Regions from separate parts of the Homo sapiens genome. Here region 1 is linked to region 2. Evidence: fine-mapped QTL for protein levels in blood plasma. A gene starts in region 2. The other region holds a variant in brackets. All regions are shown on one strand. Distances are from middle to middle.

What was found. PIP is the posterior inclusion probability: the model's chance that the variant is causal. The UK Biobank Pharma Proteomics Project read protein levels with antibody pairs (Olink). The fine-mapping took linkage between variants from a reference panel, not from the people measured, so its PIPs are less certain.
Region 1: its variant is fine-mapped to the plasma level of the WARS1 protein (UK Biobank, PIP 0.93).

What each region holds. Positions count from the first base shown.
Region 1 is chr14:100,530,424-100,539,059 of GRCh38, forward strand. It overlaps BEGAIN (brain enriched guanylate kinase associated), which reads right to left. Exons shown (of 7, transcript NM_001385089.1): 7 at 6,724-8,636. The coding sequence ends at 7,546. LOC124903382 (a long non-coding RNA gene) reads left to right here and starts at 7,549. Exons shown (of 2, transcript XR_007064334.1): 1 at 7,549-8,636. The variant A/G (reference allele first, on the strand shown) is at 2,088.
Region 2 is chr14:100,374,334-100,378,832 of GRCh38, forward strand. WARS1 (tryptophanyl-tRNA synthetase 1) reads right to left here and starts at 1,014. Exons shown (of 11, transcript NM_004184.4): 1 at 950-1,014. It overlaps WDR25 (WD repeat domain 25), which reads left to right and starts at 2,152. Exons shown (of 7, transcript NM_001161476.3): 1 at 2,152-2,162. RefSeq lists enhancers at 966-1,105, 1,116-1,475 and silencers at 1,986-2,045, 2,236-2,285.

The DNA of each region.
Region 1 (8,636 bases), 160 kb after region 2:
GGAGTCCTGAAGTGGGGGTGGTCTGGGTCTTTGGTCTGCCCTCAGGGATTCTGTTGGAGCTCAGCGCCCCACCAGCCTCACAGGCCCCAGCCGCTTGCACTCCCCAGGACTGTGGCCAGCTGGGCCCCTGGTTGGCCCAAGCCTTGGGCCCCTTGGGCAGCCCTTGCCCCGCCAGTGTGCATGCTGCCCATGCAGGTGTGCCCGCCTGGTGAGGGAGCCGCGTGGAGAAGTGAGGGACCCTTGAGGAGCCTGGAGGAGCTGGGCTGGGAGGAGGCCTGGCTCCTCAGGTGCCTGTACAGGCTGATTAGATGGAACCCCCACCAGAATTGTAACTGAGGGGCTACTCCAGGAGCCCAGGGATCTGCTGACAGGCGAGGGTGGGGCCCACTGGTACCTTGGAAGGCTTCCTGGAGGAGGCAGACCTCAACTTGGTGAAGACAGTGTCCCTGGCAGGGGAGTCAGTGGAGAAGGGCAGAGAATGTGAGGAGGCTGCCCATGGGCCAAAGCAGTGGGGGACGCAGGAGGAGGTGGGCACTTGGCTCCCCCTCCCCACTATTCTGTCCCTGCTCCACTGTCACTGTAGCTGAGGCGAGGCAAGGCACCACTCCTCTCCCAGGTTCATCTCTGCATCTATAAAGCCAGGCATTGGAAGAGCCAGCCTGTAGGCTCACAGCTAGGGTCAGAGAAGGTCAAGTCTGTGGGGGTGTCCTGGAGGGGGCTGGAGCTGGCCTGGGGCTGGTGGGTGAAGACCTGTGTATCAGTGTGTCCAGGGGGTCACTGGGATCCCTGGGCTCCGTGGGAGGGGTATCCCAGACAGAGGGAGGAGCTGTGCAAAGGCCCCAAGGTGGGGCTTCTGAGGGCTGAGTCTTCCTGCCCCACAGTCACTGCAGAGCCTGACACATGGCAGGCATCTGGTCTACAGCACCTACTGTGTGCCTGTCTGTGGGTGGGGAAGCTGGAGTTGAGCACTGAGGGTGCTGAGTGCACGGCCCCAGTGTCCCCCTACTGTGTCCTGAGGACAGGGTGAGTGGGATCCCCTGGCCCATGTGGGGGCAGGGTCCTCATGACCCACAGTGGGAGCACCTTCTATGTATTTCTTTTAGGCTCAAGAATGGCTGTTTTGGTGAAAAGAGTTGCACCCCGTGCTCGGCGAGCTTGGTCACTGTCGAAAGTGAAGATTGCCACTGGCCTGAGCAAGGCGGTTGGGGGTGGTGGTACTGAGGCTGGTGCGGGAGATGGGCAGCCCCCACCCTCTGCCCCATGTGGCTGCTGGGGCCTCCCTCTCGTCACGCCTCTGGCCTTTGCCCTTTCTCCTCCTGTTCTGACAGGGGAGCTCCTATGACCTCTGGGGCCCACCCCATCACCCCCACCCAGCAGGCTGATGGTGCCTCAGGGCCTTTGCGCCCACCATCCCCCTCCTGCAGCCTCCTTCCCTCAGGGCTTGCTTGGATAGTATCTTCGTGGAAGCTCCTGTCACCCTCAGCCCCCTTTCCCCACAGATCCCCCGGCCCCACCGATGCCCCACACCTGCATTTGTGGTGGAGCACATGCCCCAGGCTGGGGTTCCTGCTCCCTGCTGGTGCCTGGCCCCGGCACAGAGTGGGCCTTCCACAAGTGACTGCAGGCGTGGCCTGGTGACCAGATGTGGGCCTGTCTGTGTCCTTCATTGCTGTGTGACTTTGGGCAAGCTGCCTAGCTCCCAGTTCCTCAGTTTCTCCTTCTGTGAAACAAGAACACATAATGCCCATCTCGTGGGGATCATGAGGCTGGGTGTGTGTGTCTCCCGGTAGGGCCCGTGTGTCATAGGCACTCAGGAAGTGGTGCTGGGACTTAGTGTCAGGCTGACCACTTGATGCAGGAGCTGAGCCAGTTTAGAGCAGAGTGCGAATGTGGCTCCCTTCTCAGACCTCGCCTCAGTGGGCCATGGGATGGTGGGCCTTGCTCCTACCCTTGCTGTCCCTGTCACTCTCTGGGCATTGGCCTTTTCCAGGTTCAATCTCACGGCAGAAGCCACCAGCTGGGGCTGCCGCCCTCATTCATTCCCACTGGACAAGTCCAGAACTCAGATTGACTGACTTCTGTCACAC[A/G]CATGCTCCACACCCAGGCTCCTTGGGCAGGTGTGGTGGGAACTGTGATTTGTAGCAGGGAAAGTAATCTCCTCCCCAAGTGCAGGACCCTCCTACAAGTATTTTCACGAGGGTGTGTCTCCCCAGCTCCAGGCCTGAGCAGGCCTCAGCACATGTTTGTGGAATGAATGGATGCTGTGCGAATGAACCCAGACACATGGGGGAGGGAAAGCTGCAGTGGTCGGGGTGGAGGGAGGCCCGGGCTTCTCAGGCCGTTTCTTATTTGCCTTTCCCATCCCCACACCTCACTGCCAGCCCCAGACCTTGGAGTCCAGATGCTCTGCTTCCTGACCCAGTACAAACCCCAGTGGTTTTCCACCTTCCTGATGGTGATTTTGTGATGGAGAATTTCATTGCAGCGTTTGCTGATTGTTCCCTACCGTGTGATATGTTCGTGTTACCACTGATTTAACATGACCATCAGTCACAGATGACACTGTGTCAGGCTTCTGAGGGCTGGGATATAGCTGTTGAAAGGCTTCCTGTCTGCCTGGGCTCCTGGCCCCACTCCTGTGCTGGGCACACATCACTGCCTGCCACCTGTGGGACTCGGAGCCAGGAGACCAGCTCATGTCCCAGGGCCATTTCCTGCTGGTCTGAGGCCTTTGCAGGGGCCTTGCTTCTCTGAGCTTTGTTTTCTCATCTGTAAAGTGGGCCTGTGGGGATAAGGAGAGACGAGGCAAAGGAAAGGACTTTGCAGATTGTCACCCAACTTCACTTGGGACAAACGCCATCCACTTCTGTGCGCCTGAAGTCCATTTATTTTCAAGTTGGTGGCCTTGAACCAACCCAAAGCTCTGACCCTTCTGGGGCGGGGGGGCCACCCAGGGCTCCACAGAAAACCCACTGTGGCGGTTACTTAGCTCCACCCTCTGTGGGTTTGATTTCTCAACACAGGCGCCTGTGGGAGCCAGCTGGCTGGCAGCCCCTTCCCTTTTTAGGTCATTTTATTGGGAAGAATGGCAGGTGTGCACCATGCTTTTATCTATTTCTTTTTCCAAACACTTTCTTCCAAAGAACATTCTTAAAGACTGACTTTGATCCTTGGCAAGGTGTCAGGGAGTTCACCGTTTGCAGTTTTAAAATAAGAAAGCTAAATTTAGAAAATGTGGAGCAGGAATGAAAAAGGAGTATGGTCTCTTCCCTCCACCCACCTTCCTGGGGCTGAGTGTTCACCTTCATCCTCTCCTAGAAAATCTGGGATGCCAGATCCGAAGCCATCGTGGAGAAAAACGGCTTCACCTCCAGATGCTGTGCAGGCTGTGTGTGCTGGCTGCAGTGCTGTGTGCCGGGCGTGGCCGTGGCTTTTTTCTGAGTGCAGCTGATGCTCGCAGCTTCTGACAGGGTGTCCATGATCCCCACTGTCCAGCAGAGGAAACTGCTGCCCTGAGGGCAGGGAGCCATGCCCAAGGCCCTCTGACCCCAAGCCTGAGCTCTTTTTGCACCTGGGATCCCTTCCCAAATGGCCTCCCGTAGGCGCCACCTCCACCTCACTTTGGCTGTCTGTACAGTGGGAGACCCAGCTGCCTAGAGGGTCCCTGGAAATTGCATTGATGAATGTCCTCAGGCTCCAGCAAGGGAAGCTGGCCAGGGGGCCTGGGTCTTGCCCAAGGTGACACTGTCAACTGGTGGCAGAGCCCAACCCTGCGCTGCCCTGCCGAGAGCTGAGGAGAAACATACATGGATGTGTGGGCGGGTGGCGGATGTGCAGACAGGGCCTCCCTGACGGCAAGGCAGGATCTCAGTGCAGGGAGAGGGCAGGGGTGGAGCAGGGAACCCTGTGCCAAGGCCGGCTGCCTGGGTAGATGGGGACTGTCCAGGACTTCCCGTTCAGCTGTGGGGACAGTCCAAGTGCAGAAGGTCGAAGGGCAGATCCAGAGGGAAACTGCCAGCTCCAGAGCTCAGCCCCTTGGGAGCCCCACAGGAGCACTGAACAGTTTCTAGAACTCTCCAGCTGTCACAGATCTGTGCCTTTTCATGGCTGTGTTCCATTTGCCTAAAATACCTGTTGAACTCCTATTCATCCTTCAACACCCATTGTGATCCTCTCCTCTGACCCCTTTCATTCGTCCTCCTGGAGCAGTGAGGGCCCTCCCCTCTGAGAGGCCCACAGGCCCTGTGTTCTGGAAGCCCTGAGCTGAGTGTTACACTGTCTGCCTTCCTCCCCCACCTCTGAGTTCCTTGTGGGCAGGGCCAGGTCCCCGAGGCCAGCATGAGGCTGCCAGCTGACAACAGCACCAGGGAAAGGAGGGGGGCACCGAGACCCAGCCCAAGGGATCCCGCGAGAGAAGAGTCACTGGTCAGAGCCACAGGTGCTCCTAAGTCTCAGGGCCCTGCTGAGCCAGCTTTGAGCCATGAGAATTGGGGATAGTGAACCAAGGTTCCCCAGCCTCAGCACCACAAGGAGCAGTGTCCTGACTGCCGTGCACAGCAGGCAGGCCCCCACCCCGGGGGTGTCAGCCTGACCCTGCCGCTGCAAGCCATGTGGACCCTCTCCTTCCTCTTCTCTCCTGCGCCTGAAGGCTGCCTGGCTCTGCAGCCAAAGTCACCGTCCCTACCCAGTCCTAGGCAGGGACCTAATGGTCCTGGCTGCTCCGGGAACAAGACACCTTGGAGGCCCGGCTGTGGCAGGCATTGCAGCCCAGGCAGGAGAGCCCTGTGAGGTGTGGAGGCCATCTTGGGGGCCGCAGGCTCTGAGGTGGCAATTTGGGGCCAACACCCTGGGTCTGGCCCCCCCAGATCTGGGCCAAGGCTGCCGCCCAGGGCAGGTATGTCTGATTCAGTAGCCCCCAGGAGTGAGACCTGGGTGGGGCCTTTGTCACCTAGAAGTGGCAGAGCCAGGGCGCCCCTCTTTTTGGCCTCAGCTTTCCCACGTCTGGGTGACAGAAATCTCACAGTTGACACTGGGGTAGCTGAAGCTTGGGTTCCCCTCTGGGAATGCCTCTGCCCACCGGGTGCCAGTTATTTCTCTCTCCCACCCTCTTGGCTGCCCCCAGCTCAGTGAGGGCTGTAGCCCCTGTTCTGCCCACAGGCCCCAGAGAGGAGAACAGAATCCCAAACCTCTCCAAGCTTCCCCCGGCTCAGGGAGGCTGCTTCCTGGGACGGCAGCTATGGCTGGAGAAGACACAGCCTGGCTGGCTCTGGCTTCTTCTGCAGAGGAAGGGGGAGGGCAGGGATGCAGGGAGCCACGGCTGATGCCCACTCTCCTTGGAGTGGTCTGACCATAGGCAGAGCCACGCTAGAGCTACACACAAAGCCAGGCGTGCCAGGGAACCTCCAGACACGAACCTGGGTGAGGTGCTCCCCACTGGGACATGCCCCAGGCACCTACAGGGACAGCTATAAAGGCCCTCTTAGGGAGGGGCCTCCATCCTCAGCCTTGAACCCACACATGCACCTCTTCAAGGGCAGGGATGAGCATGTGTCCAAGATGAGCAGGCGTCCAGAGAAACAGGGCCGCCGGAGCGGGAACCACGAGGAGGCCTGCACAGACCACATGGTCCGGTCCCAGACCAGCTTGTGAAATGGTTGTGCCCACTGTTTTGATAGAAATAAGAGATGAGCTGGAAAATATCTCCAGGGAATGGGAAGCTAAGAAAGTGGCACTGTGGATTTGTAAAACAACCAAGTAGAACCTCCAGAAATGAAAAACATGAATAACTGAAATGAAAACCTCAGCGGCTGTGTGTGGCGGCTGAATAGACATAGGAGGGAATTAGTGAGTTGGAAGACAGATGATGTGCAGTGTAGCAGGGAGAGCGCAGCAACCACGGAGGGTGTGGGGAGGGGCGGCAGGGCCCGCTGCAGGCCTGGGATGGCACAGGGTGTGGGGAGGGGTGACAGGGACCGTTGCAGGCCTGGAGTGGCACAGGGCATGGTGGGGGGTGACAGGGCCACTGCAGGCCTGAGGTAGCACAGGTCTGGGAAACAAACCCGGAGGGAGAAAACAGAGAGAATGGGCAGAGAAATGTTTTTAAAAAAATAATAGTTGAGAATTTTTCAGAACTGATGAAGTCCACCAATCCACAGATGTGACTCCCTGAGGATCCTCAGAAGGATTCCTAAGAAGGAACTCCACACCCAGACACACCTCAGGGAAACTGCAGAAAGCCAAAGTCAAAGAGAAAATCTTAAAGAGCCGGGGAAAAGAAAGCAATTTTTTTTTTCTAACCAATGGAGCGGCTCCGGGACTGACAGCCAGTTCCCAATACCAACAGGAAGACAGAGCAGAGCGGCAGCATCCCGTGTGCCCGGGAAAAGGCCACCTGCCGACATTCCATCCGTGGCCCCAGTACATCTCAAGGAGCAGAAGCCAAGTCTGAGACACGAGGATTAGGGGCCAGGAAATCGGTGGGGCAGCGCGCAGGAGAATGGGATGAAAGAGCTGTTGTCTCCAGTGGGTTGGGAGAAGCAGGAGAATCCACACCCTAGATAGGAACTTGGATGGCGGGGTGGGGACGGGGTGTTATGGGGATGGGGTGTGAAGTGGGGTTAAGGGGCCCAACTCGGCTGCAGAGAGCAAGGCTGGGGAGGGACACCAGGGACCCCAGGTTCCCGAGACCAAAAGGCAGGAGGAGGAGAAACAGCCCAACCCAGATTCTTTCCACCGGTGTCTTTTATTAATGAATGCAAAATACAGTACTAACTGGCAGGGCATGCATCAGAGACAACAAGAATGCAAGCTACAGAAACCAGGAATGGAGGGCCTCCTCATGTCTGAGGTAGAGTAAGACGGTGTCAGGGGGCGGACCCGGGGGCGGAGATGAGCACCGGCCGCACTGGGGCATCATCCCGGCCCACCCGGGACGATGGGCCGTGGGAGGGCTCAGGGCGGTGTGGTGGCCACACTGCGAAGAATGGATTTTTAAAACACTTCATAGCCCCGAATTTGTTTCAGCTCCCTCTTCGTGGACACAACTTCAGGGCTCCCTTGTCACTGGCTTGCGGGGGTGGTCTCCCCACTTGCAGAGTCTGGTCTCCACAGGACACCGTCCTTCCCTTCCCTTCCAAGGGGCAGGCCCCACGCACCCTCGCCCAAAAAATAAAGGAGCTTTGTGTTGAAAACGCCAAGGCAGCCGTCCAGGGAGCTGGAGGCCAAGTGCGTTAAGAAAGACCCTTTTTCTCTATAAAAATAGTTTCGCTTTATAAAAGGGGGGATGCTCCTCTCACATGGGGGAAGGACGCGTGAAAAACGCTCTAAGTGGAGTTCCACGGGCCGGGGCCGGGTGGACACCGTGGTGTGGGGGACCCTCCCCTCAGGCCTACAGGGCTGGGGAGGAGAGGAGGTGCGGGGAGGAACAGACTCCTCGTTGTTGGCCGGGGCAGGGGAACAGCGGGGGCTGGGGAGAGGTGAGGCCGGCCCTTCTGGGGCACGTGGGCTGGCGGGGAGCGAACCACGGCCAGGCCTGCACGCAGGCGCTCAGTTGAGCAAGGTTCCGTAGAGCTGGGCCTTGGTGAGGCTGTCCTTGCGGCTCAGCCCCGAGCCACCAGTCCGCGGAAAGGCCTGCTGGGGGCTGAGGCGGGCGGCAGGATGCATTTCCGGGGAGGCCTCCATGGAGCTCGGCTCCAAGGAGTCCCTGGAACCCTGCTCGGGCTCAGGGCTGCTGGCGGTCCCACACAGCTGCACCCCGAGCCTGTCCCCGTCCCCCCCCTCGCTGGGTGCATAGCCGGGCAGTGGGTCAGCCGAGCGGCCGGGACTGAGGCTCAGGTCGCCGCCCGCCCGCAGGAAGCAGGGCTCTGCCAGGTGGCCCTGGGAGAGGTCGTCCCCCTCGGAGAAGCTGTCGGCCTTGTAGCTGGCGTAGAGCGGGCTGGCGCGGCCGTCGGCCTTCTTGCCCGGGCTGCCCCCGGCCCCGCCGTAGTAGCGTTCAGAGAAGCTGCAGGGTGAGGCGCGGCCGGCAGCGCTCACGGGGTAGGAGTAGGCGCCGATGTCCTCCACGCTCAGGGGACGCCACTGGCCCCTCATGTCCTCCCCGGGGAGCCGGGCGGTCCCCGGCTTGGCCCGCAGGCTCCACAGGTTTGGGGGCATCAGGGCCTGCTGGGGACCCGGAGAGGCCGGGAAGCGGAAGGTCTCGGCCGGGTACGGTGACATGGTCCGCCCGAAGCCTGGGGCCACTTCGGCCTCCAGCGGGGCCGCCACCGCGGCCGTGGCCTTGGCAAAGCGAGGGCTGCCCTCGTAGGTGGTGGCGGGTGGCTTGCGGTCGAAGAGCTCGTCGCGGCTGTTCAGGTAGATGGCCTGCTGCGACGCGGTCAGCGTGCTGGCCTGCGCGTGCTCCTTCTCCTCCGACGTGGCGCTGAAGCTGGAGTAGGAGCTGGACGTGGGCAGTGAGCCTGCGTAGCTGGGGAAGGCCTCATGCTGGAAGCCCGCCGGGAAGGCCGCCGCCTCGGCCTCCTCCTCCTCCTCGGCCGCGCTGTCAGTGGAGTTCTGGGCCCGCAGGAAGCCCACGTCGGTCACGGGCGCGTCCACGCTAGGCCGCCGGTCTCGCCGCCGCTCCTCCGGGCAGTAGAGGGCTG
Region 2 (4,499 bases):
CGTGTAAAGAGCAAAACTGCCTACTCCACAGCAGATCACAGCAGACCTTCAAGGAGAAAGCTAAAAAGCCTCTTGAAAATTAACCCCCAGTTCCCCCTTTTCAAGAACTTGAATCTTGTGCTCATTCTGAAAGTTTCCACTGTGGTGGAGGAGCATAATAGGCACTTAAAGAAACTGGGTATTGTATTGGGATGAGGAGTGGAAAGGACTATAGAATTGTTTAACAGAACAACATGATAAAGACTTGGGTTGCATCAAAATCATCTCACAGAGATCAGGGCACGCTGATTCTGCAATCTGGGGAAGGGTGGCATCAAGACAGCCAATTCTGGAGCAGGTGAGAAGAGAATGTGGCCCAGGAGTGTTTCTGGATCCCTGGAATACCACCAGGAGGTAGAATACCATCCTTTCTATCTTGGCCCCAGAGTGTAGGTGACAATACCTTTGGACTGGCAAGTTCCCAGAGGACAAGAAAATGACTTCTTTAGAGCAAGGATTTCTTGACACCTTTTGGGACCCATCATGTTCCATTTTTTTTAAACACTAAAAGAAAGATTGCTTTCCCCGCCAAATAACAGCATGAACATTATCTTAAAAGGCAAAGACATTAATTTCTATGAAGCCAGGCACGAGACACTTTTGGGTGTCACAATAAGAATGACAATACGTTCTGATGTTGAGCACAGAAGGAGGGTGCATCAGTGAAAATTATGACAGACAGCATGACGGTGCTGAGAGGCAAGCTACGGATCCAAGCCCGCGACTGCTCAGCCAGGATCTCTGTTCCCTATGGGAGCAGTGAATCACCTGAACTTTGGGTCAATGGAAGAAGTAAAATGCATAACACCCTAATCCTAAGACACAAGTCCTGACCCCCTAAACCAAGGTTTTCAGCACTTTGCTAAAAACACGAACAAGCTCTAAGCCTGGCAAAGATGGCAATACATACCCAGGTTGTGGAAGACACTGCAGAGGTGGCCACTGGTCACGCTGGGCAGTTGAGCTGCTGAGAGTGCCCTGCCCAGCCAGAAATGGTCTTTAATACTCTTCCCCTCTTTCTTTCAGTTTCCCTTCTGAAAAAAGATGCTTTTGTCTTTCGTTCTCCCCACCCTGCATTCAGCTAAGGGTTTCTTATAAATCACCCAGATTCTCAGAAACACTTGAGCTCTTGACCAACCTTCTTGATGAGACTGTCCAATCAGGGGTGGGTTGCCTGGGGGGCCAGGTTGAGACCAATGAAACCCTCTTGAGAATCGAGCCATTAGCTGGTCATTGCATCAGCCACCCCTCACCCCCCGCTGGCCTCCAAATAACCTCCCCACCCTCTTCCCGTTCCCCACCCTCAGCGTCAGTGTGACTGATTTTGTGTAGTCGTGGGCGGTGGAAAGAGAAACTGTAAATTCCCCGCATCTGTTCACCGAGGCGGCACAGTGCAGTGGAAAGATCAGGAGTTCTGGGGTCACAGACGCCTGGGTTTCAATCCCAGCTTGGACTTATTCGAAACCTTGGGCAAGGGTCGCATTACTTTTCTGCTTCCCCTTCGGTTTCCTCATCTGTGGAATGGGCATGGAGAAGCCTGCTAACATTACCGTTGAGGGGACTAAGTGCAACACTACGCAAAGCCTCTGGCACATGGCAGGCGCTAAATAAAAATGGGGGCCTCTCTCCTCGGGAAAAGCGAACAGGCGGAGACGATGAAGGGTGCCAGTGGGAAAGGGAGACGGGGTGGGTCGGCGGCGCTCAGAGGAAAGGGGCGAGGGGTCGGTGGCAGGCTCCGCGCCTCACAGTGCCAGAACGCGGCGGGCAGCAAGCCGGGCTCTAAGGATACTCCCGGGAGGGCCAGGCCACTGGGCGCCGCGCCAGCGTCCCTCCATCACTCCCTCCCTTGTTTCCTCACTCCGCCCCGGCCTTACTCCCCTCGCTTACCCTGCCCAGCCGGGCCAGTCAGCGCTCCCGGCTCAGCAACCGGCTGTCTCCTGGGCGTCCGTGGAAACGCCGTCCGGACGGAACAACTTCCGGCCCGACGGCGCCGTCATTGGCTGTTCGCGCGGGGGCGGGGCAGAGGCCGCCACTGATTGGCTGGCGGCCGCGGCGTCGCGTCGGAACGTGACTGGATGGTAGTGTGCTGGCCGGTCTGCCTCCGGGAGAACCGAGCGCTTCCGGTGCGTGTGGTGAGCGGCGGGCCCCGGGCTGGAGGGGCCGGGACTGGGCAGCGCCTAAAGCGCCCCGTGCCGCTTAACGCGGTCTCTCATAGCCGCTCGCCTTCCTTTCACTTCCTGTTCCTTCAGAAAGCGCTGTGCCTTGGACCAACCTTACTTCTTACTATTGACAGCTCAGCTAACTCCTATTCATCCTTCAAAACCCATCTCTGGTCGTATCTTGTTTGTTGCTTTCATCGCTCTGGGGCCTCCGGGGGGATCTGTGTTTTGTGTTTGATTTCCACCCACACCAGACCCAGCATAGGGCTTGACAAAGAGTACGTAATCAGGAAATGTTTGTTGAATGGGAATATCCTATTTCTTTTACTTCCTAGCATCTCCCCCTCCCACCCGTTTGCATTCCAGAAATATTTTTAGACGCTGGGCATTGAATAGTGAACAAAACACAGAAAGTCCTGTCCTCATGGGGCTGACTTGCTGATAGTGACTGTCAGAGTCACTCGCTCCTTCCTTAGACTCTTCTCCAGTGTCCCTGCCTTCCCTTCCATCTTACTGTCTGTTCCTCTTCGTTTAATCCCTCATCTCCTTCCAGAGGGAGCACGGGCACCCTGGTGGTGGGAATCTGGGTGCATGGTGGGTGGTGCCTGGGCAGAGGAGTTGAGAGTGGCCTCGGGACCAGGCTTAGCATTTAGAGAACAGAAATGCCAAATTATTTGCAGTGCACGGTTCCATTAGTTTATAATTAGTCTTTCATATTATATTAGTTCCATTGGAGATGAGCTGGCTGGCTGGCTTTAGAAGTTGTTGTTGTTGTTGTTGTTTTTTGAGACCAAGTCTCGCTCTGTAGCCCAGGCTGGAGTGCAGTGGCGTGATCTCCACTCACCGCAACCTCCGCCTCCCGGGTTCAAGCAATTCTGCGGCCTCAGCCTCCAGAGTAGCTGGGATTACAGGCGCGCACCACTGCACACGGCTAAATTTTTTTTTTTTTTGTATTTTTAGTAGAGACGGGGTTTCACCATGTTGGCCAGGCTGGTCTTGAACCCCCGACCTCAGGTAATCCGCCCTTCTCGGCCTCCTACAGTGCTAGGATTACAGGCGTGAGCCACCGCGCCCGGTCGTTTTATTTAAACTCTGGCTTTGCGTGTGGAAGTTGTTACCTGCCTGGAATGGGCTGCGAACGGGGGCGGCATTACTAGAGGAGGCTGACTACAGACATTTATGGAATGATGACCTGACTTGTAGACCAGTGGAACCCTCAGGCGAATGATGCCACTTGGGGGAAAGGTGTGGAAGAGGTTGGGTGGTTGATTCCAGGGGACATAGAAACCCATTGTCTAGAAGAAGAGATGGGTAATAGGCTGTCTGGAATGACTTAGAAAAGGACTTGGAGGGAATCTGTTGATGCTGACCTGACTCCACCTGTTGGGGGATGGAGGCGGAGCTTGGCGTGTTTGATTAAGGTTGGGTGCACTGGGTTTTCTTGGAAGTCGGTCTATTGCCTGAGCGTTCTGTGCTGTTCCACCGCGCCCTCTGCTGTCCTAGGAGTGCCTAGCACCCTTCTTTTTCTCTGGATTGTGCTTGGTGCTAACAGCACAGAAGTAAAAAATTACCAAAGCACTTCTTTCTGGGAACTAATTGATAACCATGTATTGTGTATGATGGTTCAGAATTTCAGAAAGATTTTTTTTTTTTTTGAGACGAAGTTTCACTCTTGTCGCCCAGGCTGGGGTGCAATGGCGCGATCTTGGCTCACTGCAACCTCTGCCTCCTGGGTTTAAATGATTCTCCTGCCTCAGCCTCCCGAGTAGCTGGGATTACAGGCGTGTGCCACCACGCCCGGCTAATTTTTGTATTTTAGTAGAGACAGGGTTTCACCATGTTGGCCAGGCTGGTCTCGAACTCGACCTCAGGTGATCCGCCCACCTCGGCCTCCCAAAGTGCTGGGATTACAGGCATGAGCCACTATGCCCTGCCCAGAAAGATTTTTTTTAACAAGTAGAAATTCATTGCAGTGTGAATCTGTGTGTTGGGAGTGAAATGGGTGGATTTGGATCATGCCCTCAGAATTGCTCCCTGCACACTTGGGTAGACGGACACCTCAGGACCTTAGCCTTGTGCTGTGGGCCTGTCTGTCCAGCTGGCTGCTACAGAGATGGGATACCTGGGGGAAGAATGTTCCAGGCAGGCCGGGCGCGGTGGCTCACGCCTGTAATCCCAGCACTTTGGGAGGCCGAGGCGGGCGGATCACGAGGTCAGGAGATCGAGACCATCCCGGCTAAAACGGTGAAACCCCGTCTCTACTAAAAATACAAAAAATTAGCCGGGCGTAGTGGCGGGCGC